Linked DNA regions of Homo sapiens. The protein of the gene in region 6 purifies or fractionates together with the protein of the main gene of each other region. This does not show direct contact. Each region holds a gene or a part of one and is shown on either strand. Other genes may lie near its edges.

Region 1 (4,342 bases), on a different chromosome or scaffold from region 6:
CATTTGTGTCAGTTTGTAGTATCAACAACAGTGTATTACTTTGCCATTTTTGTCACTAATATTGAGTATTTAAATCTTTTCGTTTGTTTGTTTTTATTTTTTTAATTGACAAAGGTATATATATTTTTCATTTACAACATGTTTTGAAATATGTATATATTGTAATGGTCAAATGAGCTAATTAGCATATTCATTATCTCACATACTTTTTGTGGTGAGAATACCTAAAATCCACTCTTTTTGTAATTTTTAAAAATAACAATATATTGATATTAACTATAGTCTATGTTGTACAATAGATCTCTTGGTCAGTTTTTTAAAAGCTGTAAACAGAAGTTTAATAGAAAGCAAATCTATCCACCATCTCATTACCTTAAGGAATATTTGTTGACTGCCTGTTTGGTGACTATGTTAGAAATACTGCTAAATGTTTGCAAGCTATTTGTTTAATTTTATACCAGTCTTAGTAGGTAGGTTTCATTATTGTTCCCATTTCCAGGTAAGAAAACTGAGGCCTGAGTGCTTCAGTTTATGTCCTGATAAGTAGGCCAAGTCAGGATTTGAACACAGGTCTGATTCCAGAGCCTTGTTTTTAATCCTGCTTCAAAAAAATCGTATGTATTCTTTTGGTATTATTCATACAAATGTTTCATATTTTTATAGACTTCAAATAATTATTTTAGTAGCTATATTCTTTCATTGTGATAAAATACTTACTTTATTGAGTCATTCCATATTCCATAGTGAATATTTGGGCTCTCTAGGTTTTTATTAATTACATGATGCTTCATTGATAACTTTTCTGCATATATACTTTTGCTTTTGTGGAATTATTTACTTCAAGTAAATTCCAAGAAGGGAATATATAGATTATTTTGGGGTCTTGCATATGCCTTGTAACAGATGTACCAGTTTTATTATAATATCCCTTTGAATTTTGTAGGGTAGCCTTAGAAAAGTGTTTGGATTGATTGCTACAAAGAGGAAAATAAACATCTTCTTTCTTGATTATATGTTAATATAATTTAATGTTTCTGAGTTTTCTCTGGCTGTATCACCCTTATTAGTGACTCTACGTTAACATTTTAAAATTACTTAACCATTCTATTTTTTTCTCCCTGTGGCACATCCATATTATGCAAGATTATACTTTTAAAAATCAAGATGCAAAATAAGTCTAGCATGACTTAAAAATGTATGCATAAAAGCTAAAGACTGAAATTATCTGTTTGTTCCTGGACAATTATATAATTTTTAAATTTCTACTTTAATTTTTAAGGGCTACAAGGCAGGTTATTTTATAATCAAATTTTTTTAACACAGCTGATAAACATTTAATATGGAAATAAAATACACAAAATCACAGCTAAAGGATAAGTTGTAAAGAAACAAAAATTTCTCTGTCTCTCTACTTCTCTAATGAAAATGATATTTTTAACAGGTAAAATAACATAGCTTCCCAATTTTCTATTGTCACTTTTTCTTTTTAAACAGAGATGCTGTTCAGTTAAATGTGATTGCAACGCGACAGCTTATTCTCCTTGCACAACAAATGAAGAATCTGGAAGTGTTCATGCATGTATCAACAGCATATGCCTACTGTAATCGCAAGCATATTGATGAAGTAGTCTATCCACCACCTGTGGATCCCAAGAAGCTGATTGATTCTTTAGAGTATGTTTGTTTGAAATTTATATACATTTACTTTGATCCCAAAAGAGGCCAAGGCGGGCGGATCATGAGGTCAGGAGTTCAAGAGCAGCCAGGCCAACATAGTGAAACCCCATCTCACTAAAAATACGAAAAAAATTAGCCAGGCATGGTGGCAGGCGCCTGTAGTCCCAGCTACTTAGGAGGCTGAAGCAGGAGAGTTGCTTGAATCCCAGAGGTTGCAGTGAGCCGAGATGGCGCCACTGCACTCCAACCTGGGCAACACAGTGAAACTCTGTCTCAAAAAAACAAAAAACAAAAAAAAAACCTTTGGATTCAAGTCCCTCCCTCTTCTCCTCACCCCACCCCATATACATGTGCGCGCGCGCGCGCACACACACACACACACACACACACACACATACATTTATCTCTTTTCTTCAAAAATTTTTGCATATCCCCTGCATTCTTATTGTATAGATTAATATCTAAATAAATGTTAATGAAGTCAATGTGTAGTTTTCACTTTTGACCAAGTATAATGGTAATATTTGGAGGAAGGCTCCTGAACATCTTATTAGTGATATTAGGGGCTCTCTTTTTCAGGGAATCAATCTTAGCAACCAAGAAGTACCAATGGAGACCCATGACTGCCTGTTTAATAGCAAGGCTCTAATTTATCAAAGGATTCCCCTCACCACCCCCCAGCCATGGAGTATATATATAGAGGGGCCTTTAATTATTAGAGAATCAGAGGAATCATAGTCTTTTAATTCATAACCTTACTTTTTATCTTTCTGAGGACTGAGATCCTGTCAGCAATTGTTACATGAAAATTATTTGTGAGTATTGATAGATAGGGATTAAATGAGGGAGTATATACCATGACCTTATTCTCATTTGCTGCAGCTCAGGCTTTCTCATCAAACAGACAAGGTTCAGACAAGAAAAAGAGAGATCTTTTTTACTTTTACAATTATATAAACATTCCAGTATCCACCATATTTTCATGTTTGTTAATCCTTATATAATATCTTTGAATTTTTTCCTCCTTTATTCTTCCCTCTTTTAGTCTTCTTTCTTTCCAGAGATTCTATCCACTTTGACTGCTTAGTTAACATCTGCTGCTTTCTCCTAAAATAAGCACAGTCTTTTCTTTAAGGCTTTCCTGCTAATATGAGGAAACAGATAGATTGTAAAAAAAATGAGAAATTACCAAGACATTTTCATTGTAATTCCCTAATTTCTATTTTCTCACTCATTTTCTTAGATGGTCCCAAATATCTACTTCATTTTCTTCATAGATCAATAAACAGAAATATTTAATATCTGCGGGAAAAGTTGAGTGTGAAAGTTAATGGAGCATTTTACTTTTTCTCTTACTAACAATATATACAAACATTTGAGAAACTGAAAAAGAACTTGTAAGCTAATGCTGTATCTCCTTTCCTTGCTGCAAAGAAATCTAGCTAACATAATTTTAAGATAACTCATGGGTTTGTTCTGTAAACTCGTTCTAGTAATAAGGCTTACTAGCTAAAGTTTCTCCTGAGTTTAGGCAGGTTTTTTTTTCCTCATGTATCAACTATCCCTTTCATTTTTCAAATCTCATCTCCATGGTGGAATTTTTCCTAAGTTGGGTAGCAATTTCCCTTCAATTTAATTGATGTTCTTTTCCTTTCATATACAAAAAGTACTTCCATATACAGAAGAAAATTTTATCTTGATAATCTCTGTTTTATGCTTTCTTATCAATTAGTATGGGTATCATTAGAGTATGACAATATACTGAGTCTACTTGCATACACAGCATTATTGACAAGAAGTAAAAACAAGTACATAATGTATTAGAATCAGAAGTTTAGGAAAAACCATGGACACCACCTAGTATATCGCCCTCCTTTTACAGATGAACAGAGTAGACCATTTCTTCAAAGAGAACTGGAGGAATTTTTTTGACTTCATAGTAGGTTGCTAATTGAATTTTTATAGCATGCTTCAATTTATTTTTATTGTTCATCATAGCATTTGTTAATCTCATTAGAGCATATGATTTGCAGTGCTGCACCTTAAATACTAGGCCTTTTATGCCTTTTGTGTTCATTATAAATGTATGTTAATTATAACTGTATATAATTAACATGTTACTTCATTAGGTGGTTATATACAGATCTGTATTTCCTAACCTGCAAACTTCCAGAAGGTTTCAGATATATTTTGGAATTTATTTGGACTTTAGAGAGGGTATATAATTTATGTACTGTGTAATAAGAAAAAACTTTAACTTGATCTGGGTTAGTATCCCTGATCAAATACATGTAAAATATATGAATGTTTAAGTTGTATCAAAAAAAAGACCATAAGTCAGTGTAGATCAGATTTTGCTATCCACTGTATGATTTATGAAAGAACTCTTAGTTTTCAGATCTTTTTGGATACAGAAATTGCAGATAAGGGATTGTGGACCTGTAGTTGATGTTTAAGAAAAATAAGACTAAGTTCCATTTTTCAGTAAAAGTTGTCAAATGATTTGAGTCAGAACAGCAGATATGTTTGAATGTGCGAAGTTCAATTAAGTAGCTTTTTATTTTATAGTAAAATATCTGGAAATATATTTGTATGCAATTTCTTTACCAGGTGGATGGATGATGGCCTAGTAAATGATATCACGCCAAAATTGATAGGAGACAGA
Region 2 (4,161 bases), on a different chromosome or scaffold from region 6:
CTTCATCATAATTAGGCTAATGACTCTCTTTGTTTTAAACCTATGACACAGTCAAGATCATTTTTCAATTCCTAAAGTAGTGCCCAGTGTCATTGGGTAAGAAATCAAAAAGCTTTCATTCAACAAATTCTTATAAACACGTACCATATACAAAATTATGCATCAGAGATAATCACAAGAATTACTTTTGCTATTATCTCAAAGACTAGGTGCAATTACAAAATATCTCTCTAGCCAGTGTTCAAGTAAAAACCAATAAGCTTTTTTGTTAGTTTGTTTTGAGACAGGGTCTCCTTCTGTCTCCCAGGCTGGAGTACAGTGGCACAATCACCACTCACTGCAGCCTTGACCGCCTGGGCTCAAGGGATCCTCCAGCAGCTTCTGGCTGGGCATGGTGGTTCACACCTGTAATCCCAGCACTTTGGGAGCCAGAGGTGGGCAGATCGCTTGAACCCAGTTCAGGAGACCAGCCTGCCAAAACCCCGTCTCTACAAAAAAAAAAAAAAAAAAGGCGAAAAATTAGCCTGTCGTGGTGGTATGCACTTGTAGTCGCTGCAACTCAGGGGGCTGAGGTGGGAGAATCACCTGAGCCAGGGAGTTCGAGGTTGCAGATCGCACCACTGCACTCCAGCCTGGGCCACAGAGACCCCATTTCCAAAATCAAAAAACAAAACAAAAAAATGTAATAAATGGCAATTAAATTCCCAAGCTAGACCACAACAGCCTATAGAGGAACCACAGTTTTTGTATGAATTATTAGAACTGCGAAGTCAGTTCTACAAATTATTGTTGAAATTACAAAATAGTGTTTGATATTTTCTAAATGAGAGCATTTCTCTTATAATTAAAACAACTTAATTCTTTAAAATTCTCTAAAACAGCCTAATTCTTTAGATTTACTTGTTATAACTTTCAACAGAGGATATAAAAAAAATGAAAATCAATATCAAAACAGACTATTGACTATGTGAAATAAAACATATCGTAACAGCCATCTTTCCAAAAGTGGCACATCTGGTTTCCATCACTGGGTAATACTTTATTAAAGAAATACAAGATGGAGTTTGTTGAAAACTGATAAAACCAATGCACTTACAGAAAAGTCAATATTCCTTACAAGCCTAAAATCCAAAATTTATTGGTCAAGTTCTAATTACATAATCTTCATAATAATAAAGATATATTTAAATAAGTATGTAAATATGAAATCCCTCGGTGAATTTTTAGGGCAAAGAGTAAATGAAATTGCAGGTAAAACAAACTACATTAAATAGGAATAAAAATAAAAACAGCCGGGCGCTGTGGCTCACGCCTGTAATCCCAGCACTTTGGGAGGCCGAGGCAGGGGGATCATCTGAAGTCGGGAGTTCGAGACCCGCCTGACCAACATGGAGAAACCCTGTTTCTACTAAAAATACAAAATTAGCCGGGCCTGTTTTTGGTGGGTTTTTTTGTTTGTTTTTTTTTTTTAGAGAATTAAAATGGCATTTTAAGAGAAAAAGCAAATAGTAACCAAATGTTAAATATTTCACCTCAAGAACTATTTGGAGAATTAAATTTCCATGTATTATTTACTGGGATCTCTTTAATAATACCCTTCTGCTCTGACATCTTTCCCATACATAATATAAAACCATCCTTTAACCCTATTTTACAGCTGGAAAAAAAAACCCGAAGCTCAAAGAGGTTAAGATTTATTGCTGGAACTAAATTCAGGTGTATTCGCTCTGACTGCAAGCCCAACTTCCCACTACAGTACTGCTCATAACAAGGTTTAACATGATTATGTGGATCTTCAATATTCTTCATAAATTAGGTGGCTCTGGATAGTTTATTAACACGTCAAAGGATTGATACAGAGTTAAGCTGAATGATATATACCAGAAGGAAAATTGTTTCCAATTCAGTGATATGCCATAAACGTGAGGAGTACAGGTTTCAACAAGATGGGTGGATACTCGTTTCGGGGAGCAACAAACAAGTTTTTCAATTTTGGTTTGGCCAGTTTCAAGTAAGAAAAAGGCCAGAATAGGCTAGTGCACAGTACACCTAGCTGGATTAACTGAATAGGCTCACTTCATGAACTTCACTCCTAAACTGGGAGGACAGGAGAGGGGAGAAAATCAAAGTGCCTCAGCCCTCTCCAGTGGAAACTATAAAAAGCCCTTGTGGAACAACCCACCGACTCACAAATCTGGAAAGGTGAGGCCTGAATGAAAATTAGGACTGGAAACTGGGGTGAAGCACTGAGTCTAACAGGACCAGGCATGCTCACAGTGCCTTCTCCTGACGTCACCTGAAGCTTACCTCTTTGACAGGTGGGAATTTCTTCTTGCACTCCAGTGACAAGGCGCGCAAGTCGCTCTGCATATTCTCCAGCAGCTTCTTCACCGCCTCGGGGCTGCTGGTGCCGGACATGATCCTCCAAGGTCCCAGCCAATTTCCGAGAGGTACAAACAAGCTCTGGCACGGTCAGCTCCTTAGGGCCACAGGCAGCTCCCTCCCGGTGTCTCTGGTCCTTCAGCAGCCCGCTTCTTGGGCCCTGGGCTGCGAACCCGGAGCCTGCTCGAGCGTCCCCCAGCAGCTTCCCCGCAACACCTCTGGCTTTTCTCGGAGGCGCCCCCCGCAGTCGCACCGTCCCGCTAGGCTCCGCCGACTCTGGCCGAGAAACCCACAAGGCGGGCAGGTCCCTCCGCTGCCGCGGGGCCCAGCCACACCGGGTGTCACCAGCCAACCTGGCAAGAAGCTTCAGCGCCAGCTCCCCAGGCCCCTAAGACTCGCCGACGCCATTAGCCGAGTCGCCCACAATTCCGAGCGCTGCCGGGACACGTCAGCCGCACTTCCGGGTACCGTGGCCTCCGCCACCGCCGCGGCCAACCCCGGCGGCAGGCCGTCGGCGGGGCGGGGCTGGGGCTTGGCCATGCTCGGGGCAGGCGGGATTCCGGGTGGGCAGCGATTCCCACAGCCCCACCCCCGGAATCAAGTAGGCTAGACAGGGTTTAAGGCGTCAAGATTCGCTTCGTTTTCATTAACAAGTGCCTGAACAGAGCCCCCGAGTACTCCTTGGCATATCTCTTTGCGTATGTTTGTGTTAAATTGTATTTCGGTGTAAATAATTTGTTTCCCTGTAGATTAATCTTAACGTGTCTCCTCCCGCTTCATTTCGAATCTCTGGACTAGTGGCCCCAAATCAGTGGCTACCTCCTGTTAATATACATTTTTTTTCTTTAAACGCAACTGGTGCACTTACTGTGGGGTAGCCTCTTATTTTCCTAATCTCTAAAATGAGACTACCCTCTGCTCCACGCATTCCGCTGGCCTCCCATCTCACTCAAAGTAAAAGCCAAAATTCCTCCAATCACCTACCAGGCGCTACGAGATCTGTCCCGGCCCCTTTACTGGCAGATGCTCCCAGCTAAAAGGAGAGTTTCGCGAGTTGGGCTGCCGGTTCTTCCTCTTTTTAAATCTTATTTTGTTTCCTGTGTATCTCCAGCACCTAGAACAGTGTCTGGCATATAGCAGGTAATCAGTACATACTTGTTGAATGAATACCCTTCTATTATAAAATCAGAGTTTCGAGGCTCAAATAAGGCACAGATACATAAAAGCCTTCATCAGGTCTGAAGTGCCAAATAAATATGAGGCAAAAGCCAAACAGAAAAATCTTCATCTGTATTTCCCCAAGATCCAGGTTGGTCTACTTTTTCCCCAAGACATTTTGCAGCTGCTGGTCAGAAAGCAGAAAATGAGGGAGGAAAAACCAGAAACAGTAGAGATGAAGAAACCAACACCTTCAGACAGCTGAGCTTATGACATGATGGAAGACAGTGAGCCATGAGATTGTCAGTGGATAGCGCTGTTTGGCTGTAACAGAGCTACTTTGTAAGCTAAATAATTTTATTTTATTTTTCCTTCTGATAAGAAGCAAAGCAAGGATGGATAAAGGGGACAGATGAGGTAATAGTAGAGAGCTCCTAGGGCAGTAATTTTGATCATTTGTGCCTATTACACAACTTCTGGGAAACTTGACACCTCCTATGGTATAAGCTTTATGTATGAAAACTGGTGAATTTAGCAAAAAAGTTCAAATGGAATATATGGCAGACATTATTCTTGAGGTCTCAGGGAGCTTGTAAAAACGAGGCGCTTTTTTTGGGTGGG
Region 3 (4,342 bases), on a different chromosome or scaffold from region 6:
TGGGCTTTTGTGGCACACAGGCCATATACAGCTTTCTTCTTGCCACAGTACACTCAGTTACCTGATTTCATTGAAAAGGTTAGAAATCTGTTTCAACCCTGGCTTGCTGGGTAGTAGATAGATGGTTTAGGAGAGAATTTTTTTTAGTCAAAACTGATCAGGCATTGACTCTTTCTCTGCAACTAACTAGCTTCTGGATATGGGGCAGATTTTTCCCTTACTTCCATTTTTCTCATCTGAGAAAGCGGGTGATGACCACCAACTCTGTGGCACTTAAATGAAGTAATGCATACCAACTGTCTAGTGTGAAGCCTGGTGGACAGTAAACATACAGCAAGTGTTCCCACAGTAATATTTGCATTTTGTTGTGGAGACTTTTTAAATGTTGGGCTGAGCAGTTAAAATTGAAGTAAGCCAGATAATGCAAATGAGGTATTTTTTTCTTCAAGTAGTAGAATCATCAAAGCTGTGATTAAAGATAATTCTTGCATCAGGGAACAAGGTGGGTTAGAGGGAAAAAAAAAATCAACTAGAGACATATCAGTTAAAAGGCTATTGCTATTACAATAGCTGTAGCTTTGTAGCTTGAAGTAAGAACCAGAAGAAAGTAGTAGCAGGAGAAATAAAAAGGAGTGGACACATTGAGGAGGCTGTTCAGAGGAGAAATGTATAGGACTTAGGAGCTAATAGTAGAGAGATGATCAGGAAAAATAAGTATTAAGGTGAAATTTTAGACTTACATCAAAATGATTAGGGTAATGTTGATGCACATTACATGGGCAGTGAAGAGGCAGCTTCCAGTCTTTCATCCATTAAGGTTTAGGTACTGATAAAACATCTGGGTAGAATTTTTCAGCAGTGATGGAAAGCTTTGAAAAACAAAACAGAAGATGTGGATTTGGGAATTACCTCCCTAGAAGCAGGAAGAGATGGCATCATCAAGGGAGAGGAGTATAGAGAGGCATTATGAAAAACAAACTTTAAATAGGTATATAGTATGATTTTTATTCATTATGTAATGAAAGAAAAGGTAGTAGTGTCACTGAAAATAACTTTTGGCATTAACTCTCATTCTGATAGAATGCTTATTTTAACAATAAGTTATTTTTTTTCTTTCATGGTTAAAACAATATAGGTGATGAAACAACATCTCAGGTAAGGGGTTGACTACGCTTGGCTTTTTACCTTAAAAGAAGAAAACATTTGTGATTTTGGTATTATTTCAAACTAATGTCTGATTCTGTACCAAAATGGTGAAGTATATAGTTTATTCTCCTTTGCCACCCAGGGATTCTTTATGAAAGTTTGAAAGCACTGCATTTCCAAAAGACAAGGTTTAGAGAAGTTCTAGAGTAATTGATAAATGGAGAACTGTCAAATGAGAACCATACATATTAGTTCTGTTTTGTAAAAGGGAGGGTGAAAAGTGAATTTAAGTCTATAAAAATGAATTATATGTAATTCTCTAAATTCCAGATATCAGATCCCATGATTTCTAGGCCTGCCAGTTCACTTAAATGGCATTAACCATTATTTTTTTAAATTATTGATGTTTGGATTCAACATTTCCTTTTAGGTGTTTCAAAATCTTGAGTGCTAATGGTGAGGCAAAAGTATTCAGACCAAGGGACCGTGATGATATTGTAAAAACTGTGATTGAACCGATGGCATCAGAAGGCTTGAGAACCATATGTCTTGCATTCAGAGATTTTCCAGCAGGAGAACCAGAACCAGAGTGGGATAATGAAAATGATATTGTCACCGGCCTTACATGCATTGCTGTTGTGGGGATTGAAGATCCTGTGAGACCTGAGGTGGTGAAACATTCTGTGTTCTGCATGTGCAGAATCTCATAACTATAGAGGACCTAGGCCTTAATTGTAACCAGTTTTCTAGTAAAATTCTTGGTGTTTGTGATTTTTTTTTTTTCTGTGTGAACCCAAGATAAATGAAATAATAGTACCTACAGTGCATATGCTAGCTTTTATGGTTTTTAAAGACAGTGTCTCTTTGGGATCCTATGTGTTCATAGCACCATAACCTAGCACAGTGCCTTGAAGTGGGTAGAATTTTCAGTTATTATTTATCTTAAATTAAATAATAGGTGCCATTATTTGTTTTCACAGTCTCTAGACTAGCATTGTCTAGTAGAGCTTTCTGTGATAATAGGAATGTTCTGTATATTGTTTAGTACAGTAGCCACTAGCCATGTGTGAATACTGACTTCTAGTTTTCAGTGGCTAGTGCAACTAAAAGACAGGATTTTTAAATTTTATTTAATTCAAATTAAAATATCTTGCTAGTAGTTGTCATATTGGATGGCATGCAGCTCTAGACTGATTTCCCTCTTTAATTTTTTTTTGCTATTTGGTTTTTCACCTTTTTTAAGTTTGTTGAACAACTACTGTGTGCCAGGCACTATCCTAAGGTACTAGAGACTTAAGAGTTTTGAGATCTGATCACCGGCCTCAAAGAAGTTACTGTCTTATGTGGGACGAACCAAACACGTGATTATTGCAACCCAAGATATTACTACCTTGCTGGGTATATACAGAGCATGTTATATGAGCAGAGAACACGAGTTCCCAACCTAGCCTAATAGCATCTTTTTATTGAGTTCTCACTGTGTGCCATATACTTAAGCCATGTGTTTTACAAGTAATTTTTTTAAATGTCTACCTTTATGAGGTATGCATATTATTACTCTTATTTGGCAGATTTTTAAGAATCAAAAATGTATAGAGCGTTAGACATGTTTAAAAATACATTTTTAAAAAATCGAGAATGTATAGAGCATAGACCTAGTGTGTTAAAATACCAGCTTTGTCTAAAACACATGTGCTTAAAAGACTACTGTACTGTATTGACCACTGGAGGGGTCAGGTAAGACTTCCTAGAGGTTAATTACCTGATCTGATTCTTAAAGAAGGAGGAAGTATTATCTAAACCAAGAAAGAGAGCGAGCAGTTAGGTATATTCTGAGCAAAGAAGCAACATAAATAAAAGCACTAACAGAAAACCACTTTTGTTCAGTGACTTTATCAGCTAATTGATTCAAAACCTAATGTGTAGCACTCTTTTAGGAGCTGGAAATACTGCAGTGACCAGAATAGGCTTGAGATTTATATTCTAGAGGAAGAAGACAGCTAAGTAGGTAGAATGATAGATACATGGACACCATGTCAAGTGAAAAATGAATTCTGGGAGGAATAAGACTTGGTCCCTGTTCTCATAGGCCTTAAGATATTCTGGGTGGCAGGGTGGCATATCAGGGGGGATGATATTAAATAAGACAATTACAAGTGCAGAAGGGCTATATAAGATATGCACGGTGTAATGAAATAAAGTAATGGAGAGAGACTGCATTAAGAATTTCTGAGGATGTGGCATTTGAGTTGCAATCTGATGGTTCATAGTGGGTCTGCCATGTAAATAGCTGCAAGAAGAGCATTCCAAGCAAAACGAGAAATGCAAGTGAAAGTGAGAAAAGTAGCTATTTTAAAGGTGGAAAAGAGGCCAGTGTGGCTATAAATGTAAAGAAGAAAGGGGAGACGAGATGATCTCTGGCCTTACTGGGCTGTGAGGACTCTGAATTTTCTGAAATTCAGGCTGGGAAGTGACATGATTTATGTTGTTAAAATACTATTTTGGGTACGTGTAAGACAGGGATTAGAGATGAAGAAGAGTAGAAGCAGGGAAGCTAATGAGATTATTGCAGTGATCCCAGGCAAGAGATGATCATGGCTTGGCCCACAGTTGTGGCATAGGAGATGGAAAGAAAAGAATGATTTCAAAGTAAGTGGAGATAGAACCAGTAGGAAGTAATATGTTGGGTTTGGATACGCTGTTTTTGACATTGTTGAGGTGTCTGAGACATCCAAATGTATGTCAAGCATTTGGACCTCAGAGCCTGAAAGTGGGCTAGTCTGAAGAAATCACTGATGAAACTAAAGATATTTAGAGAAAGTGTGTAGCTAGGGAAGAAGGCTTTTATGACTAAGAGGTTGCCACAATTAGAAGTCTTATAAAGGAGATGGTCGCTAACCATCTCTGTACAAGTTAGAGAACCAGTCTGTAACTTGGTGGCTGATAGAGGGTTACCAATGTAATAAGAGAACCAGAAACAGCAGCCTGTTGAGAGATTAAGATAAATTTGGTTTGGGGTTTTGTAATTTCAAATGCTTATAAAATAGCCAGGTGGGTAATGTTTGCCATGTGGTCACAGGAGAATCATTCAAAGGTTGTTTTTTTATTTTGTCTTGTTTTTGTTTTCTTTAAGGAAGGAGTCTTCCTATGTTGCCCAGGCTGGAGTACAGTGGCTTTTCACAGGCAGGAGATCATG
Region 4 (4,342 bases), on a different chromosome or scaffold from region 6:
ATGATCCGTCAGAAATTCAAAGGCTTAGTATTAATTACTTCTCAACAGCTGGCTGTATTTATAGTACTGCTTGGCATAAGTTCCTGAGTAAGGAAATTGCAGATTTAGAAGTGTCCCTAAATAATTTACCCTCCCATCCCCAGGGTAGTAGCTACAGGAAAAAAAAAAAAATCTAGTTCACAGCTTTCGTGCTGAAGCCAGGACTGATTCCTATTACAACAGGAATTTTATTTGGTCCTCACAGCATGTTTGTTTGTTTGTTTGTTTGTTTGTTTGTTTGTTTTTAATAGTTATCAACATTTCAAGACCAAGAAATTCTTAGGGTAAACTGACAGGCAGTGCCAGACTTCCTGAACTTCTTGTACGGAATGACATCTATTCCTGGTCTTCAGAGCAGTACTCTCCTTGGAATGTTCTGCAGTAATGGAAATGTTGTTATTTCCATCGCGACAGCCACTAGCCACATGTGGCTATTGAACATTCTAAATGTGGCTAGCATGACTAAGATTGAATTTTAAATTGTGTTTACTTTTAATTAACTTATATTACTGTAGACATTTATGGTTAGAGGGTATCATACTGGACACTGCACTTCTAGATGAACCAGGCAGGTTGCAGGAGTAGTAATTCAAAGTACTATACATCTGGATGTGTAGATTTTCTTCTATGTTTTCTTCTAGTTGTTTTACAGTTTCTGGTCTTAAGTCTAAGTCTTTAGTCCATTTTGAGTTGACTTTTGTATATAGTATAAAATGAGGTTCAAATTTCATTCTTCTGCTTGTGGATATACATAATAGTCATACTTACGAATATGACATTTAGTAACACCATTTATTAAATATAAAATAATTCTAAACTCTAGATCAGTTTAGAGCAGATTTTTACAATTAAGTTCAATCAAAATTTAAATCTCATTCAAGTTTTTTCTGGTCTAGAAGAGAAGATGAAGGGAAGGAAGCATGTCTCCACTCTATTTTTTGCTTAGCAGACAGCACAAAAGGAAATGTAATGTGATATTCAAATTTAAGCCCAAGAATACACTTGGCTAAAACCGGCTTTTGTCACATTTTAAAGTAGATGCATATTCTTTGATAAAAAGATGAAAGAAAATATTAAAAAGATGAAACTGCCTACATCATTCTTTGTCAAAACTCGAACAATTTTGGCTGTTATGTTAGAAGTCAGTAGAAATGTTTTTTCTCATTAAGTGTCCTTCAGAGAATAGAATCATATTTGGGAATGAATTTATTAATGGATACAACTGTACTCTTTCCTCCCAAACCTGATTCTCCAACAGAGGGGTTTGCCATCTCAGTGGATGGCACCATTTTCCATTTAGCTGTTGAAGTTAGTCATCGGGAGGCATTTTGACATCTTCTTCTCCGCCATCCCCCACCAGGTTCTGCTGATTTTACTTTCTAGACAGGTATCTTTCCAGTTCATTCTGACAAGATCTGTATTGCACCACCCACCCTGTGTCTCGCTCCTACTCCTGAAGCATCCTCCTAACTGTTCCTCCTGCATCCACTGTTTCATACACTCCCTTGCAAACCTTACAGTGCAGTTATGGTGAACTTTTAACAAAACAAATCTAAGTATATTCTTCCCACGCTTAAAATGGGTGCATTTCAAATGAAACTCCAAATCCTAACTGGCCTGCTAGACTCTGTGTAATCTAGCTTCTGCCTGCCTCTCTAGCTTTGAGAAGAGCTGTCTTCCTTAGGATTAGGCCTACCAGGACATGGCAATACATCTAAAATAACAGTGGCTTTAACAGAACCGAAGTTTATTTTTCTCTTATGTAAGTAGGCAATCCATGGACTGGTGTGGCAGCTTCACAGTCCTCCAGGATTAGGTGGCTTTGATCTTTGAAACTTTACCACCCTCAGCACAGAGCTTCCAACTCATGGTCCTTAGACGATGACTGCTCTAGCTGCACCATCACATCTGTATTCCAGCCAGGAAGAAAGTAGAAAAGGAAATAAATCGCCAGTGCCTTCCCTTCAAGAACATTTTCCAAAGTTGCCTCCACTACTCCCACTGCATCCTGTTGTTCAGAACTTCGCCACATAGCCATACCCGGCTGTGAAGAAAATTGTTCTTAGCAGCCTGTGCCCAGCTAAAATCCAGGGCATTATTGTTGAGAGAAAGGCAAGATACATTTGGAAAACCACTTACTCTCCATCACAAGAGCTAACTCCTCATTTTCTAGAGTAGAATATGAGTCAGAAATATCTGACATAGAAAACTTAACAGATAGCACATAAGCATATTATTAGAAATAGACAGATACTAGAGAAAATGGCTGAAACTGATGAAAATGGTTGCCTCTGGAAGGCAGGAACACAGTAAACCAGAGGACTGGTGTTTTGCATATTAAATCTTTCAGTACTGTATAATTTTTTCCATGAAGAACATATATATTTTGATAAACATTGCATTTGAAGGCATTTCTAGGCATTGACTGAAGCCAGGCCCACAAGTATGTATTAGGACTGGGTGAATTTTCCCTGCAAAGCCCGTGAAGTTGTGTTTTTATTTCCCACCTTGCCAACCATCCCTGAGTCTTTGGTATTGATTCAAAGGTGGTGGTGTATGCATGGTTATTGTCAACAGTTGAGGACCATAAAGATCAGGTTTAAGACATTTGGCCACAAGCAGTCCTCCCTTTTTTCTGTCATTAGGACACATTCTATTATTTTCTATTATATAAAATACTGATGAGGTATTAAATGTCTGTGACATAATACATTTTGTCTTATTTTCCTGACCTGGGCTGATTTATAATAAGCATGTGCAGGAAACTTTTTCTAATTGGCAGCAGCACTCACCACTTAAAGTCCTTTTCCACCATGGATGTTCTGTGACAGGGAATGTAGACACAGTAAACTATCATCTGCAGAAGATTGCTTATCAAAATCCACAGACCCAGAGGCCCAAATGAGAGGTAGGGGAGAACTGGAACATGAGATTGTGGAATCCCAGAAACTAGAAAGATAATTCTCTGCCTATCAAAAAGAAAGTTTTAATCCAAATGTACTCTTGTGAGACTTGAGAAATGATTACCTGTTTTTCATGAGAAATACACCAAATCTTACAATTGCAAGCCTTAATAGGTTTTGTTTGTTAAATAGTTAAGCCAAGAGGAATTGTTGCTAATGAGAGACAAAGATCTGAAAGAAAAACAATCACTGGGCTTGTGTTTAATCACTTTTTATTTTCTCAGATCTCCATCATGTCATTATCTGGCTTTGGTGCTTACATAACTTAACTAGGAGAGTTCAGGCAGCAATGGGAATAGGAGGGCAAAATGAAAGGTTAACAATTTAAATGGATCACCTGCAGATGCGTGATATGGATGGAGATGAAGCCTATTAAGGACCTAATTTTAGAAGAAGCTCTTGACATCAATCATTTGTGAAAAGGGTTTTTTTTTTTTTCTTACCTACACACAAGGTTTTGTACACTTGTCTACAAACCTTAAGCATTGATGCATCTGATCATCAGCTTGTGGGATTACTAACACCAAGCCACTTTGAAAGAGCAGTCAAGGTTATTAACTTTGGCAGGAAATGAAAATTTGGCCTTAATATACATGTGAAATTGAATTGTCTGTAGCACAAAGCTTTGGAGATTACCCATGCAAAATGAGAAAACTATCTAAATTTAAAATTGTCCTCAGTACAGGGAAAGTAATTTTGCAGACAGCATTTTTACTGCATTGAAATCCGTGAAGATTGGCTCTATTAATTTAAATTTAAACAGAGGTTCTGTGTCTTCTAAAAATCGCAAATGAGATGGAAAATGTACTTCAAGGGAAAAAATGGGTTTCTGGATATGCTGCAGGCAGGCAGGCAGGCTTCCTACTCCACATCTTTGAGTCTGCCCTGAGACCAGTTAGCTTCAGAGGGAAGGCTCTTTCCACTGTGACAGGCATTTGAAATAAGGACATGCAGACAATGCCTCTATTACATATTTCAGGCTTCAAGAGTAGGGTAAGAAACTGATCAAGTAGAGCCCAAGGCAAAAGTCATTGGTGGCTTTTACATTACATTTACCAAAGTAGGTGGGCCCTCGACAGAAAAAAATCTAGGGGTTGAATATTTTTTCTCAGCTATCAAATAACTTTCTTATAATCCCTGCCTGGAAGGATACTGGGGCAGGGGATTTGGTTACATTAACTACCTTTTCACAAAAAAAAAAAAAAAAACACACACACACACAAAACAAACTTTTACGTAAAGAGAAATTGAAATTTTCATTCCCTGGTCTTTGAATTTCTTTAGTTCACAACAAACCCTTTCTTATTAAATAATTATTGGTAAATCAATTACATTTATTT
Region 5 (4,342 bases), on a different chromosome or scaffold from region 6:
ATAGAAAAATTAGCTGGGTGTGGTGGCAGGCACCTGTAATCCCAGCTACTCCGGAGGCAGAGGCAGGAGAATTGCTTGAACCTGGCAGGCGGAGGTTGCAGTGAGCCGAGATTGAGCCATTGCACTCCAGCCTGGGCGACAAGAGCAAAACTCTATCTCAAAAAACAAAAAAAGAATTCTTAACCTTATCTATAGCAGGGAACTACAGTCTTTTGCTCCTACATGTAAAGGATACAGCATAACTGTATTCGAAGGAACAAATGCAGTGTTGCTAAATAATACCAGTCCTGACAGTCAATTAACATTTTCAGAGCCAGGCTGGGGTTGGGTAGTGGCAAGCCTGGAGTTCCAGCTCCTCAGGAGGCTGAGGCAGGAGAATCGCTGGAGATCAGGAGTTTGAGGCTGCTGTGCACTATGATCATGCCTGTGAATAGCTACTGCACTCCAGCCTGGGCGACACAGTGAGGCCCTGTCTCTTAAAGGAAAAAAAAAAAAAAAAAAGAACTAATTTGATCTTAGAAAATATTTTGACTTTATTTGATGCCAGATCTGTAAGAAAAAGTTTTTATGTTCCACTACAATGTATATGGAGCATTATACTATCACATCCATTACACCTCTGCTTTTTAAAACAAAATAGCACAAAACATTTTAAGTTAAAATATTCTAGGTAATCCCTTCAATTATATAATAGAGGGCAGTTTTACAAAACTAGGTAATCCCTTCAATTATATAATAGAGGGCAGTTTTACAAAACTAAGCAATCAAGTTCTTACCATCTTAACAGTCTAGACCTATCATAGGGGAGGAATTAAAACTAGAGTAATTGAGGCCAAGCATGGTGGCTCACACCTGTAATCCCAGCACATTGGGAAGCTGAGGTGGGCAGATCACTTGAGGCCAGGAGTTCAAGGCCAGTATGGACAACATGGCGAAACCCCATCTCTACTAAAAATACAAAAAAATTAGCCAGGCCTGGTGGTGGGCGCCTGTAAGCCCAGCTACTTGGGAGGCTGAGACAGGAGAATCACTTGAATTCGGGAGATGGAGGTGGCAGTGAGATCGCACCACTGTACTCCAGGCACTCCAGCCTAGGCGACAGAGGGAGACTCTGTCTCAAAAAAACAAAATAAAACAAAAAAACTATAGTAATTGGTTTTGGTAGGCCCTAGAGTATCCTCATTCCATAAGGCCAGTATCACCCTAATACCAAACCAGACAAAGACATCACAAAAACACCCTAAATTGATGTCCCTCATCAAAAGAGATGCAAAAATCCTGAACAAAATATCAACAAGCTCAATCTAACATCGTATACAAAGAATTATGCATCACAGTCAAGTGGGATTTATTCCAGATACGCAAGACGGGCTCAATATTCTAAAATGACTTAATGTGATCCATCATATCCACAAGCTGCAGAAGGAAAATCACATAACATTAACAGATACAGAAAAAGCATCTGACAAAACCCAACCTTCATTCATGATAAAATTCTGCAAACTAGGAATAGAGGGGAATTTCCCCAATTTGATAAAGAATATCTACCAAAAAACCCACCAAACATCATACTTCATGATGAGAAACTCAAAGCTTTCCCACTAAGATTAAGAACAAGGCAAGTTCTCACCACTCCTTTTCAACTATAATCCTACCTAATGCAGTAAGACAATAAAACACATTGCTTTCTGATGGTCTTAGAAAAGAAAAAAGAAAAAAAAGGCATACAGATCAGGAAGGAAGAAATAAAACTGTCTTTGGTTGCAAATGAAATGATTATCTGTGCAGGAAATTCCAAGTATCAACCAAAAAACCACTCCTGGAACTAAGAAGTGATTATAGCAAGATTTCAGGACATAAGGTTAGTACATGAAAGTCAATTGCTTCTCTACAAATAAGCAATGAACTGGAATTTGAAACTGAAACACAATACCATTCACATTAGCACCCCTTAAAAATAAACGCTTAGGTATAAATCTAACAAAATAGGTATAAGGTATATATAAGGAAAATTATATAACCAATGAAAGAAATAAAAGAACTAAACAAATTAAGAGATATTCCATATTCATGGATAGGAAGGCTCAACACTGTCAAGATTTTAGTTTTTCCCAACTTGATCTACCAATTCAGCACAATCCCAATCAAAATTCCACAGGTTTTTTTTGTGAATATCAACAAACTGACTCTTATGGAGAGGCAAAAGATCCACAATAGCCAACACAATACTAAAGAAGAAGGAAGTCGAAGGACTCACACTACCAGACTTCAATGCTTACTATGGTTGGGCGCGGTGTCTCACTCCCGTAACCCCAGCACTTTGGGAGGCTGAGGCAGGCGGATCACTTCAGGTCAGGAGTTCAAGACCAGCCTGGCCAACATGGTGAAATCCAGTTTCTACTAAAAATACAAAAATTAACCAGGTGTGGTGGCACATGCCCACCCAGCTACTCAGGATGCTGAGGCAGAAGAACCACTTGAACCCAGAAGGCAGAGTTTGCAGTGAGCCGAGGTCACAACACTGCACTCCAGCCTGGGCAACAGGAGGCTCCCTCTCAAATTAAAAAAAAGTTTAGTTTAATATATATACTAAGTAGTACAGTTTACTACAGATCTGTTACAGTAATCAAGATGGTATGGTATTGACAAAAGGGAGAGAGATCAATGGAGGAGAGAATAAAGCCATAACAGAGCTTAGAAACAGATCGTAAAGGCCGGACGCAGGGGCTCATGCCTGTAATCCCAGCACTTTGGGACGCCCAGGCGGGCAGATCACGAGGTCAGGAGTTCGAGACCAGCCTGACCAACATGGTGAAACCCCCGTCTGTACTAGAGTAGCCAGGTGTGGTGGTGCACACCTGTAATCCTAGCTACTCGGTAGGCTGAGGCCGGAGAACTGCTTGACAGAGGTTGCAGTGAGCCGAGATTGCGCCACTGCACTCCAGCCTGGGAGACAGAGCGAGACTTCGTCTCAAAAAAAAAAAAGAAATAGATCCATAAAAATATAGCCAACTGATCTTTGACAAAGGAGCAAAGGCAGGCATTCAATGGAGTTGGGGAATGTCTTTTCAGAAATGGTGCTAACTGGACATCCACAAACAAAAAAACTTCAAAAATTAAAAATCTAGACACAGATTTTATATCCTTCACATAAATTAACTCAAAATGGATCAGAGACCTAAATGTAAAATACAAAATTATAAAACTACTAGAAAATACGAGAAAATCTAGGTTACCTTGGCTTTGGTAATGACTTTTTAGACACAACGCGAGAAGCAAGATCCATGAAAAAAACACTGGTGAGCTGGACTTCATTAAAATTCAATAGTTCTCCAATGTCACAAATGTACCACACAGATACAAGATGTAAATAACAAAGGAAACAGCGTGCAGCGGAGAGGAGGTTTTGAGGACTCTATTATAGTTTCCCATCAATTATTCTGTAAACCGTAAACCACTCTAAAAAAAAAGCTTATTAATTGATAAAAAATAAAGTAAAAAGAAATGAACTGTCAAGCCATGAAAAGAGCCTTAAATGCATAGTACTAAGTGAAAGAAACCAATCTGAAAAGATTACATAGTATATGATTCCAACTATATGACATTCTGGAAAAGGCTAGAGTAGAAACAGTAAAAAGATCAGTGGTTGCCAGGTGTTACAGGGATGGGAGGGATGGATGAATATGCAATGAGGATTTCTTCCTTTTTTCTTTTTTAAAAGAGTATCACTCTCGTCACCTAGGCTGGAGTGCAATGGCGTGATCTCAGCTAACTGCAATCTCTGCCTCTCGGGTTCAAGCAATTCTCCTGCCTCAGCCTCCTGAGTAGCTGCAATTACAGGCACCTGTCACCACGCCTGGCTAATTTTTGTATTTTTAGTAGAGATAGAGTATCACCATGTTGACCAGGCTGGTCTCGAACTCTTGACTCCAGGTGATACACCCTCCTTGGCCTTCCAAAGTGCCGGGCCTCCTCCTTTTTTCTTTTTTTTGGAGACAGAGTCATGCTCTGTCACCCAGGCTGGAATGCGCTGGCACAATCCAGGCTCACTGCAACCTCCACCTCCAGGGCTCAAGTAATTCTCCTGCCTCAGCCTCCCACGCCCAGCTAATTTTTTGTATTTTTAGTAGTGACGGGGTTTCACCACGTTGGCCAGGCTGGTCTCAAACTCCTGACTGCCTACCTCGGCCTCCTAAAGTGCTGGGATTACAGGCATTAGCCACCACACCTGGCCAGCAATGAGGATTTCTAGGGCAATGACACTCTTCTGTATAACGCTGTAAGGGTAGATACATGTCATCATATATTCGTCAAAACCTACACAATGCACAACACACAGTGT
Region 6 (4,986 bases):
TAATTTACTTCTACTTTTTATAGAGACGGGATCTCCCTATGTTGCCCAGGCTGGTCTTGAACTCCTGGGCTCAAGGAATCCTCTCGTCTCAGCCTCCCAAAGTGCTGGGATTATAGGCGTGAGTAACCATGCTCAGCTGTTTTGTTTGCTTTTTTTTTTTTTTTTTTTTTCTTTGAGAAAGAGTCTTGCTCTGTCACCCAGGCTGGAGTGCAGTGGCGCTATCTTGACTCACTGCAAGCTCCGCCTCCCAGGTTCACACCATTCTCCTGCCTCAGCCTCCTGAGTAGCTGGGAGTACAGGTGCCTGCCACCACAGCCAGCTAATTTTTGCATTTTAGTAGAGATGGGGTTTCACCATCTTAGCCAGGCTGGTCTCGAACTCCTGATCTCAGGTGATCTGCCCACCTCGGCCTCCCAAATTGCTGGGATTACAGGTGTGAGCCACCGCGCCTGGCCATTGTTTTGCTTTCTGAGACAGGGGCTCACTCTGTCACCCAGGCTGGAGTGCAGTGGCACAATCGCAGCTTACTGCAGCCTTGACTTCCCAGTCTCAGGTGATCCTCCCACCTCAGCCTCCCGGTAGCTGGGACTACAGGCGTGCACTACCATGCCTGGGTAATTTTTTCTCTCTTTTTGTTTTTCTTTGTAAAGATGGGGTTTTGTATATTGCCCGGGCTGGTCTCAAACTCCTGGGCTCAAGTGATCCTCCCACTTCAGCCTCCTGAGTAGCTGGGCACACACCAATATGCCCGGCTGGGGTTTCTATTCTTCATTTCCGCACTATATGTGAGATGAAGGCAGTCCACGTGTGCACATAGTAAGTCAACAAAAACACCTTGAAAAGCCCTGGGTGTCAGGCCCCTTCTGAGCACAGGTGGCCTAGGGATGAACTAAAAATAAACATGACTAATATTTATCAACTGTTTAAAATGGGCCAGGCATTGTTCCAAGACTTTCCACGTAGTAACTCATCTATTTCTCTTAGCATATTTACAAGGGTGCCCATTCTTTAGAGATGAGGAATCTGAGTCACTGTGGATTTAAGTCATTTGCTCAGGGTCACAGATGGATATGCAAATTAGAGAGTCTGGGGTGTGGAAGACAGTGCACAGGGTCCTGACCAGGCTAGAAAGGCCCCAGGCCCGGCATGGGTCATTTCCAAGCTGAATCCTAATGGAGCAGTGGGTAGGAGACTGTTAGGGGGAAAGTAGGCAGGTGCATCTGGTGGGGGAGACAGTCTAGGCAAAGGCCAAGAGGCAGGAGCCCGCTGGGCTCATTTTGTGAGAGCTGCAGGGGCTTGTGGGAGACGGAGAGGGGAAAGGCGTCAGAGGCTGAATGGAAGAGCGTGCTCCAGGGACGAGGGGCATGAGGTCTAAGCCCCAGGCTGCTCTTGATGTGTGATCACCCACCAGGGAGGCGAGGGAGTCAGCTGGCCTTTCTCTCAGCACCCCCTGCTCTCATCCTCTGCCCCACGTCCCGCATCCGTGCAGCAGTGGGGCGCGGCACCCGGTACCTGGGGTGCAGAGGGAGATTTCGGGGGACAAAGTGGAGTGGGCTGGGGGCTGGAGAAAGGATGGGAGGCATCTCCAGTGTCAGAGCTAGAGGCAGCGGTGAGGGAGGAAGGTGAGGGCCAGCGGGGCAGGGTTGGGAGCTGGGTTCCACTTCCTCCTCCTCCCCTTCCCGCCCTGGCCTCTGGCTTCACCAATGATCTGGTAAAGGGGAAATTCTTGAGTGTAAAGTCCAGCAGGTGGAAGGACTAGGCCTGGGACTCCTGGGTCCCCGGCAGTGTCTGGAGGCATGGCTGGGGCTGGCGGGGGCCTCGGGGTCTGGGGGAACCTGGTGCTGCTGGTAAGTGCTCCCCGCCCAGAGCGGGCTCCCAAGGCAGGGACTCCCAGGTCTGAGGGAGAAGGAGCTGGGTGCCTGCACCTCGATCTTGAGGAAGTAGGTGCTGAAGATCCCCTGGAGAAGGAAGAGGGCTTCAGGCTTGGCAGAGACTGTAGGAGAGTCTTACACCTGGGCTCTTAGATACTGTCGTGTCTGCTGCGGGGGACACCAGCTTCACCCGGGCCCTTAGACATTGTCGTGTCTGTTGTGGGGGACACCAGCTTCACCCGGGCCCTTAGACACTGTCGTGTCTGCTGCGGGGGACACTGGCTTCAGGCAACACACAGCTGTGCTCACGGACAGGAAGCAGCCCCTCCTCCCTCAAACCAAGAGTCCAGACCCCAGCCCCTCCTCCCTCAGACCCAGGAGTCCAGGCCCCCAGCCCCTCCTCCCTCAGACCCAGGAGTCCAGACCCCAGCCCCTCCTCCCTCAGACCCGGGAGTCCAGGCCCCCAGCCCTTCCTCCCTCAAACCAAGAGTCCAGGCCCCCAACCCCTCCTCCCTCAGACTCAGGAGTCCAGACCCCCAGCCCCTCTTCCCTCAGACTCAGGGGTCCAGACCCCCAGTCCCTCCTCCTTCAGGCCCAGGAGTCCAGACCCCCAGCCCCTCCTCCCTCAGACCCAGGAGTCCAGACCCCAGCCCCTCCTCCCTCAGACTCAGGAGTCCAGGCCCCCAGCCCCTCCTCCCTCAGACCCAGGAGTCCAGACCCCAGCCCCTCCTCCCTCAGACCCGGGAGTCCAGGCCCCCAGCCCTTCCTCCCTCAAACCAAGAGTCCAGGCCCCCAACCCCTCCTCCCTCAGACTCAGGAGTCCAGACCCCCAGCCCCTCTTCCCTCAGACTCAGGGGTCCAGACCCCCAGTCCCTCCTCCTTCAGGCCCAGGAGTCCAGACCCCCAGCCCCTCCTCCCTCAGACCCAGGAGTCCAGACCCCAGCCCCTCCTCCCTCAGACTCAGGAGTCCAGGCCCCCAACCTCTCCTCCCTCAAACCAGAGGTCGAGACCCCCAGCCCCTCCTCCCTCAGACCCAGGAGTCCAGACCCCCAGCCCCTCCTCCCTCAGACCCAGGAATCCAGACCCCCAGCCCCTCCTCCCTCAGACCCAGGAGTCCAGACCCCAGCCCCTCCTCCCTCAGACTCAGGAGTCCAGGCCCCCAACCTCTCCTCCCTCAAACCAGAGGTCGAGACCCCCAGCCCCTCCTCCCTCAGACCCAGGCCCCCAGGCCCCCAGGCCCTCCTCCCTCAGACCCAGGAGTCCAGACCCCAGCCCCTCCTCCCTCAGACTCAGGAGTCCAGGCCCCCAACCTCTCCTCCCTCAAACCAGAGGTCGAGACCCCCAGCCCCTCCTCCCTCAGACCCAGGAGTCCAGACCCCCAGCCCCTCCTCCCTCAGACCCAGGAATCCAGACCCCCAGCCCCTACTCCCTCAGACCCAGGAGTCCAGACCCCAGCCCCTCCTCCCTCAGACTCAGGAGTCCAGGCCCCCAACCTCTCCTCCCTCAAACCAGAGGTCGAGACCCCCAGCCCCTCCTCCCTCAGACCCAGGAATCCAGACCCCCAGCCCCTCCTCCCTCAGACTCAGGAGTCCAGGCCCCCAACCTCTCCTCCCTCAAACCAGAGGTCGAGACCCCCAGCCCCTCCTCCCTCAGACCCAGGAGTCCAGACCCCAGCCCCTCCTCCCTCAGACTCAGGAGTCCAGGCCCCCAACCTCTCCTCCCTCAAACCAGAGGTCGAGACCCCCAGCCCCTCCTCCCTCAGACCCAGGCCCCCAGGCCCCCAGGCCCTCCACCCTCAGGCCAAGGTTCCTGATCCCCAACCTTGGTTTTTTTCTCCCTTCCCAGTCTGTTCATTGCTCTCTGCCCTCGGTTTTCCAAGGACATATATTTCAGGAAATGAAATCATTAATTTTATCTCTCAGCCTTATCGGGTGGAGCCAACCCCAGCTCCCTAAGCTCTGCTCCTGCCATGCTCCCCCTTCTCTCCTCGACCCAGGAAAGACGGTCGAGGTCGTGACAGCCCAGCCTAACACCGGCCCCTCCTTCCCATGCAAGGGTGACTCATGGGGCGGGGACCAGCCGCTCCTCCCAGCCCCTCGGCCTCACTGGGCGGAGGAGTGGTTGAGAGGCTGACTCCGTTTTCTCTGGGTTCCCTCCAGGGCCTGTGCAGCTGGACAGGGGCCAGGGCGCCTGGTGAGTGACCCCTGCCTGAACTCACTGCCCACTCGAAGAGGTGGGACCGCAACTGCCGTGAGCCTCTGGGGGGTCCCCGTGGGGTCCAGTGGTCCATGGTAGGGGTTTATGAGCGCCGTTGTTTCTGGACTTGGGGCGTGAGCTCAGGGGTTGGGAGGGATTGTACTGACCTGGTTCCCTTTTTGTCAGACCTTCCTTCCCAATTCTCAGCCCCCAACCCAGGGAGGAACCTGACAGTGGAGACTCAGACCACCAGCTCCATCTCCCTGAGCTGGGAGGTCCCCGATGGCCTAGACTCACAGAACTCCAACTACTGGGTTCAGTGTACTGGAGACGGCGGCACAACAGAGACTCGAAACACAACAGCCACCAACGTCACCGTGGATGGCCTTGGACCCGGGTCATTGTATACGTGTTCTGTGTGGGTGGAGAAAGACGGAGTAAATAGCTCTGTGGGGACTGTCACTACTGCCACAGGTAAGAGGCAGCCACTGCTTTATTTTTATTTCTTTTATAAGGACAGTGGTAGGGGGTGGTTGAGAGCTGACAAAATGCGACAGGTTCTTTAGTTGGATAGAAACACAGTGGAAGCCACACGTGAGAATTTCAATTTTCTATCAGCCACATAAAAATAAGTAAAAAGAAACTGGTCAGCCTGTCTCTACAAAAAAATTAAAAAGTAGCTGTGGTGGCGTGTTCCCGTGGTCCCATCTACTCGGGAGGCTGAGGTGAGAGGATCGCTTGAGCCCGGGAGGCAGAGGTTGCAGTGAGCTCTGATTGGACCGCTGCACTCCAGCCTGGGCAACAGAGAGAAACCCTGTCTCAAAAAAAAAAAAAGAAAAGAAAACAAAAGAAAACAAAAGAAAAGAAAAACAAACTAAATTACTATGAGAGATTTTATGTAGTCCATCAGATACAATTT
Region 7 (4,342 bases), on a different chromosome or scaffold from region 6:
ACAACAGATTCCACAAATACACAAAAGATCGTCAGAAACTATTTGAACACCTATATGCTCACAAACTAGAAAACCTAGAGGAAATGGATAAGTTCCTGGAAACACACAACTTTCTGAGACTGAAACAGGAAGAAACAGAACTCCTGAACAGATCAATAATGAGTAGCAAGACTGAATCAGTAGTAAAAAAAAAAATCTCTTAACAACAGCCGGGACTAGATGGACTTATAGCTGAATTCTATCAAACATATCAAGAAGAACCAATTCTCCTGAAATTATTCCAAAACACTGAGGAGAGAATTCCCCCTAACTCATCCTATGAGGGCGGTATCACCCTGATACCAAAACCAGACAAGGACACAAAAAAATAGAAAACTACAGACCCATATCCCTGATGAACAAAGATGCAAAAATCCTCTACAGAATACCAGCAAAATGAATCCTACAGCACATCAAAAAGATAATACAGCACGATCAAGGTGGGATTTATCCCAGGGATGCAAGGAGGGTTCAACATATAAAAATCCATATATATGATACACCACATAAACAGAATTAAGAACAAAACACATGATCATTTCAACAGACTCAGAAAGGACATTCAATAAAATTCATCATCCCTTCATGATAAAAATCCTCAATGAACACACCTCAACATTAGGCCACATATGACAAACCCACAGCCAACCTCACACTTAACAGGGAAAAGTTGAAAACATTCCCTTTAAGAACTGGAACAAGACAAGGATGCCACTTTTATCACTCTTACGTGTAATAACATAATACTAGAAGTCTTCACCAGAGCAATCAGGCAAGAGAAAAAAATAAAAGGCATCCAAACTGGAAATGAGTAAGTAACATTATCCCTGTTTGCTAATGATATGATCTTATATCTCAAAAATCCTAATGACTCCACCAAAAAACTCTTAGATTTGATAAATGAATTCAGTAATGTTTCAAGATAAAAAATTAATGTACAGAAATCGGTAGCATTTTCATATACTGATAATGATCTAGCAGACCAAATCTAGAAGGCAATTCCATTTACAACAGCTAAAAAAAAAAAAAAACACCTAGAAATATATTTAACCAAGAAGGGGAAAGCTCTCCATAAGGAGAACTTCAAAACAACGATGAGAGAAATGGTAGATGACACAAACAAATGGAAAAGTATCCCATGCTCATGAATTGGAAGAATCAATATTGTTAAAATGACCATACTGCCCAAAACTATCTACTAGTTCTAGACACTCCCAATCAAATTACCAATGTCATTTTTCACAGAATTAGAAAAAAAAAATCCTAAAACTCATATGGAAAAAAAAGGGAGCCCAAATAGCCAAAGCAATGCTAAGCAAAAGGAATAAATCTGGAGGCATCACATTACCTGACTTCAAATTATACTACAAGGCTAAAGTAACCAAACCAGCATAATACTGGTATAAAAACAGACACATAAGTCAGTGGAACAGAACAGAGGACCAGGAAATAAACCCACATACCTACAATCAACTGATCCTCAACAAAGTCAACAAAAATAAACACTGGGGAAAGGACATCCTATTCAATAAACGGTGCAGAAAAAATTGAATAGCTATATATAGAAGAATGCAAGTGGACCCATACTTCTCACCATATGCAAAAATTAACTCAAGATGGATTAAAGACCTAAACATAACACATGAAACCATACAAATCCTAAAAGAAAACTGAGGAAAGACTCTTCTGCATATTGGCCTAGGTAAAGAACTTAGACCAAGTCCTCAAAGGCAAACACAAGAAAAACAAAAATAGACAAATGGGACTTAAACTAAAAAGCTTCTACACAGCAAAAGAAACAATCAACACAATAATCTAACCTACAGAATGGGAAAAAATATTTGCAAACTATGCATCCAACGAAGGGCTAATATCCAGAATCTACAAGGAACTCAAACAACTCAAGAGAAAAACAAAAAGCCCATTAAAAAACTGGGCAAAGAGCATGAACAGACATTTTTCAAAAGAAGACACGCAAGTGGCCAACAAATAAATGAAGAAATGCTCAACATCACTAATCATCAAAAAAATCCAAATTAAAACCACAATGAGATACTATCTTACACAAGTCACAATGGCCATTATTAAAAAGTCAAAAGACAACAGATGTTGTCAAGATGTGGAGAAGAGGGAATGCTTATATGCTGTTGGTGGGAATGTAAATTAGTACAACCTTCATGGAAAACAGTATGGAGAATTCTCAAAGAACTAAAATTAGAATTACCGTTTGATCCAGCAATCCCACTACTGGGTGTTTACCCAAAGGGAAAGAAATCATTATATCAAAAAGATACTTGCACTTATACGTTTATTGCAGCCCTATTTACAATAGCAAAGATATGGAATCAACCTAAATGCCCATCAACAGAGAACTTGATAAAGAAAATGTGGCGTGTGTGTGTGTATATATGTATGTATATACTATAGACTACTACTCAGCCATAAAATAAGAATGAAATTATGTCTTTTGCAGCAACATGGATGGAACTGGAAGTGATTATCCCAAGTGAAATGACTTAGAAAGTCAAATACCATACATTCTCACTTATAAGTAAAAGCTAAACAATGGGTACACATGGACAAATGGAGTGGAATAACGGACACTGGAGACTACAAAAGGTGGGAGGGGAATGAAGGTTGAAAATTACCCACTGAGTACCAGGTTCATTAGGGTGAGAGTACACTAAAACCCCAGACTTCACCACTATATGACACAAGCATATAAGAAATCTGCACTTGTACTCTTCCTAAATACATAAAAAGTTAAATAAAATTAAAATGGAAAAATATTTCTCTTTCATTACACTGTGTGATTCTACTTATAAGAATAGGCAGAACTAATCTACAGTGATAACAATAAGAATAGTGATGGGCTCTGTGGAGAAGGTTGTTGACTTTAAGGAGGCATGAGGGAACTTTCTGGGATGATAAAAATGTTCCGTGTACTGATCGGGGTGATGGTTAAATGGGTATACACATTTGTCAAAATTTACTAAACAATACTTTTCAAACACTAAAGTCAGCTTCAGGATATACTCACAAATTTTATGTGATGATGTTTAAAACAAATTCAAAATAAGAATGACCTTTATGTTTCATTTTTAAATTCATTAAGTCTGACTCATACTGTTGATCATTAAGAGAACTGCATACTACATAGAGTTCAAATGCTAGCCACAGCCTTTATTAAGTACACCTTTGATCACTTATGCTGACTGGGAACAATTCAGATAAAAAGCTAGCAGATAATATAAATTCCCTCAATTTGGCCTTAAAATGTTTTATTTTTGACATTAGCACACTCACGTTCTTAATAACATTGGGTTAGACTAGTATTTTATAATTTTCAAGTATACAGTCCAGGATTCTATCGAGTAGTATGGGGAGGAGAAGCAGATATGTCACATTACTTTCACAACAGTTTTGATAGATTTTAAGGATTATCTCCACACTATAAGGTAATTATGTGTCACTAAAACCAAAAATATACACTTTTGATGATTTCAGTCAAAAAATATTTACTGAACCTGAACTACTAGGTTAGCATTGTTTTGGATTTATTTTTAGGCTTAGTGGTCACAGCAATGAATATTAACAAAATCCCTGTCCTCATGGAGCTTTCACTCTAGCGGTCCCATTCCTCCAAATAACCATGGTACTCTTTATTTCATACATGACTAAGCCACATTCTCACTGGTAAAAATGCCAATCTCTTGACTCTTAAAGACTAAAGATTTGCTCCTAAATTGTTTCCAGAAATCACTTGGAATGTGCCTGTTCAGAGAGCAGGGATGAGCTAGGCAACACAGAGACTCAAGCGTCCATGATCAACAGCCTCAAGCCCTGCTGCGGCACCCATGTCAGCTTTGCTACAACTCACCAGGCTGCCCTTGGAGGTCGGGGTGGCCCTTCTGGAATTCCTCTTTTTTTTTATCCAATTCTTGTTGAAAGTGCTCAAATTCCTCCTGATACTTTTCTTTTTCCTTTTCCGAAATTTCTTTATCTGGTGTGGGCTTTTTTTTGGAGTTTTGGAATAGATCATTAAAAAGATAAGAAAATCATTAAGATATCTCTATACATGTTATTTTTCTCATTTTAACTCTTCTACCACTAGCGGAAAGGTTAACATAAAAATGTATTCCTTCTTTACTTAAACGATAGCAAATTACTCTTTTTTTTTTTTTTTTTTTTTTTTTTTAGAGACAAGAGTCGCGCTCTGTCACCCAGGCTGGAGTGCAGTAGCGTGATCTCGGCTCACTGCAACCTCTGCCTCCCAGGTTCAAGCAATTCTCCTGCCTCAGCC

What was found.
Region 1: the proteins of PTPRH (region 6) and FAR1 purify together in Homo sapiens (affinity purification with mass spectrometry, with the first as the bait; one large-scale study listed by BioGRID). This does not show direct contact.
Region 2: the proteins of PTPRH (region 6) and MON2 purify together in Homo sapiens (affinity purification with mass spectrometry, with the first as the bait; one large-scale study listed by BioGRID). This does not show direct contact.
Region 3: the proteins of PTPRH (region 6) and ATP2B1 purify together in Homo sapiens (affinity purification with mass spectrometry, with the first as the bait; one large-scale study listed by BioGRID). This does not show direct contact.
Region 4: the proteins of PTPRH (region 6) and LANCL1 purify together in Homo sapiens (affinity purification with mass spectrometry; one large-scale study listed by BioGRID and IntAct). This does not show direct contact.
Region 5: the proteins of PTPRH (region 6) and UBE3C purify together in Homo sapiens (affinity purification with mass spectrometry, with the first as the bait; one large-scale study listed by BioGRID). This does not show direct contact.
Region 7: the proteins of PTPRH (region 6) and LMAN1 purify together in Homo sapiens (affinity purification with mass spectrometry, with the first as the bait; one large-scale study listed by BioGRID). This does not show direct contact.

What each region holds. Positions count from the first base shown.
Region 1 is NC_000011.10:13,706,406-13,710,747, forward strand, and holds part of FAR1 (fatty acyl-CoA reductase 1), read left to right. Parts: intron 1-1,494; coding exon 1,495-1,674; intron 1,675-4,287; coding exon 4,288-4,342. UniProt on the Homo sapiens protein: Catalyzes the reduction of saturated and unsaturated C16 or C18 fatty acyl-CoA to fatty alcohols. It plays an essential role in the production of ether lipids/plasmalogens which synthesis requires fatty alcohols.
Region 2 is NC_000012.12:62,465,465-62,469,625, reverse strand, and holds the start of MON2 (protein MON2 homolog), read right to left. Parts: upstream 2,801-4,161; 5' UTR 2,419-2,800; coding exon 2,308-2,418; intron 1-2,307. UniProt on the Homo sapiens protein: Plays a role in regulating membrane trafficking of cargo proteins. Together with ATP9A and DOP1B, regulates SNX3 retromer-mediated endosomal sorting of WLS away from lysosomal degradation.
Region 3 is NC_000012.12:89,614,274-89,618,615, reverse strand, and holds part of ATP2B1 (plasma membrane calcium-transporting ATPase 1), read left to right. Parts: intron 1-1,576; coding exon 1,577-1,814; intron 1,815-4,342. UniProt on the Homo sapiens protein: Catalyzes the hydrolysis of ATP coupled with the transport of calcium from the cytoplasm to the extracellular space thereby maintaining intracellular calcium homeostasis.
Region 4 is NC_000002.12:210,455,679-210,460,020, reverse strand, and holds part of LANCL1 (glutathione S-transferase LANCL1), read left to right. Parts: intron 1-4,342. UniProt on the Homo sapiens protein: Functions as a glutathione transferase. Catalyzes conjugation of the glutathione (GSH) to artificial substrates 1-chloro-2,4-dinitrobenzene (CDNB) and p-nitrophenyl acetate.
Region 5 is NC_000007.14:157,144,891-157,149,232, reverse strand, and holds part of UBE3C (ubiquitin-protein ligase E3C), read right to left. Parts: intron 1-4,342. UniProt on the Homo sapiens protein: E3 ubiquitin-protein ligase that specifically catalyzes 'Lys-29'- and 'Lys-48'-linked polyubiquitin chains.
Region 6 is NC_000019.10:55,206,244-55,211,229, reverse strand, and holds the start of PTPRH (receptor-type tyrosine-protein phosphatase H isoform 1 precursor), read left to right. Parts: upstream 1-1,728; 5' UTR 1,729-1,796; coding exon 1,797-1,847; intron 1,848-3,815; exon of another isoform or gene 3,816-3,934; coding exon of another isoform or gene 3,935-4,030; coding exon 4,031-4,064; exon of another isoform or gene 4,065-4,162; intron 4,163-4,253; coding exon of another isoform or gene 4,254-4,274; coding exon 4,275-4,541; intron 4,542-4,986. UniProt on the Homo sapiens protein: Protein phosphatase that may contribute to contact inhibition of cell growth and motility by mediating the dephosphorylation of focal adhesion-associated substrates and thus negatively regulating integrin-promoted signaling processes.
Region 7 is NC_000018.10:59,342,000-59,346,341, forward strand, and holds part of LMAN1 (protein ERGIC-53 precursor), read right to left. Parts: intron 4,053-4,342; coding exon 3,920-4,052; intron 1-3,919. UniProt on the Homo sapiens protein: Mannose-specific lectin. May recognize sugar residues of glycoproteins, glycolipids, or glycosylphosphatidyl inositol anchors and may be involved in the sorting or recycling of proteins, lipids, or both.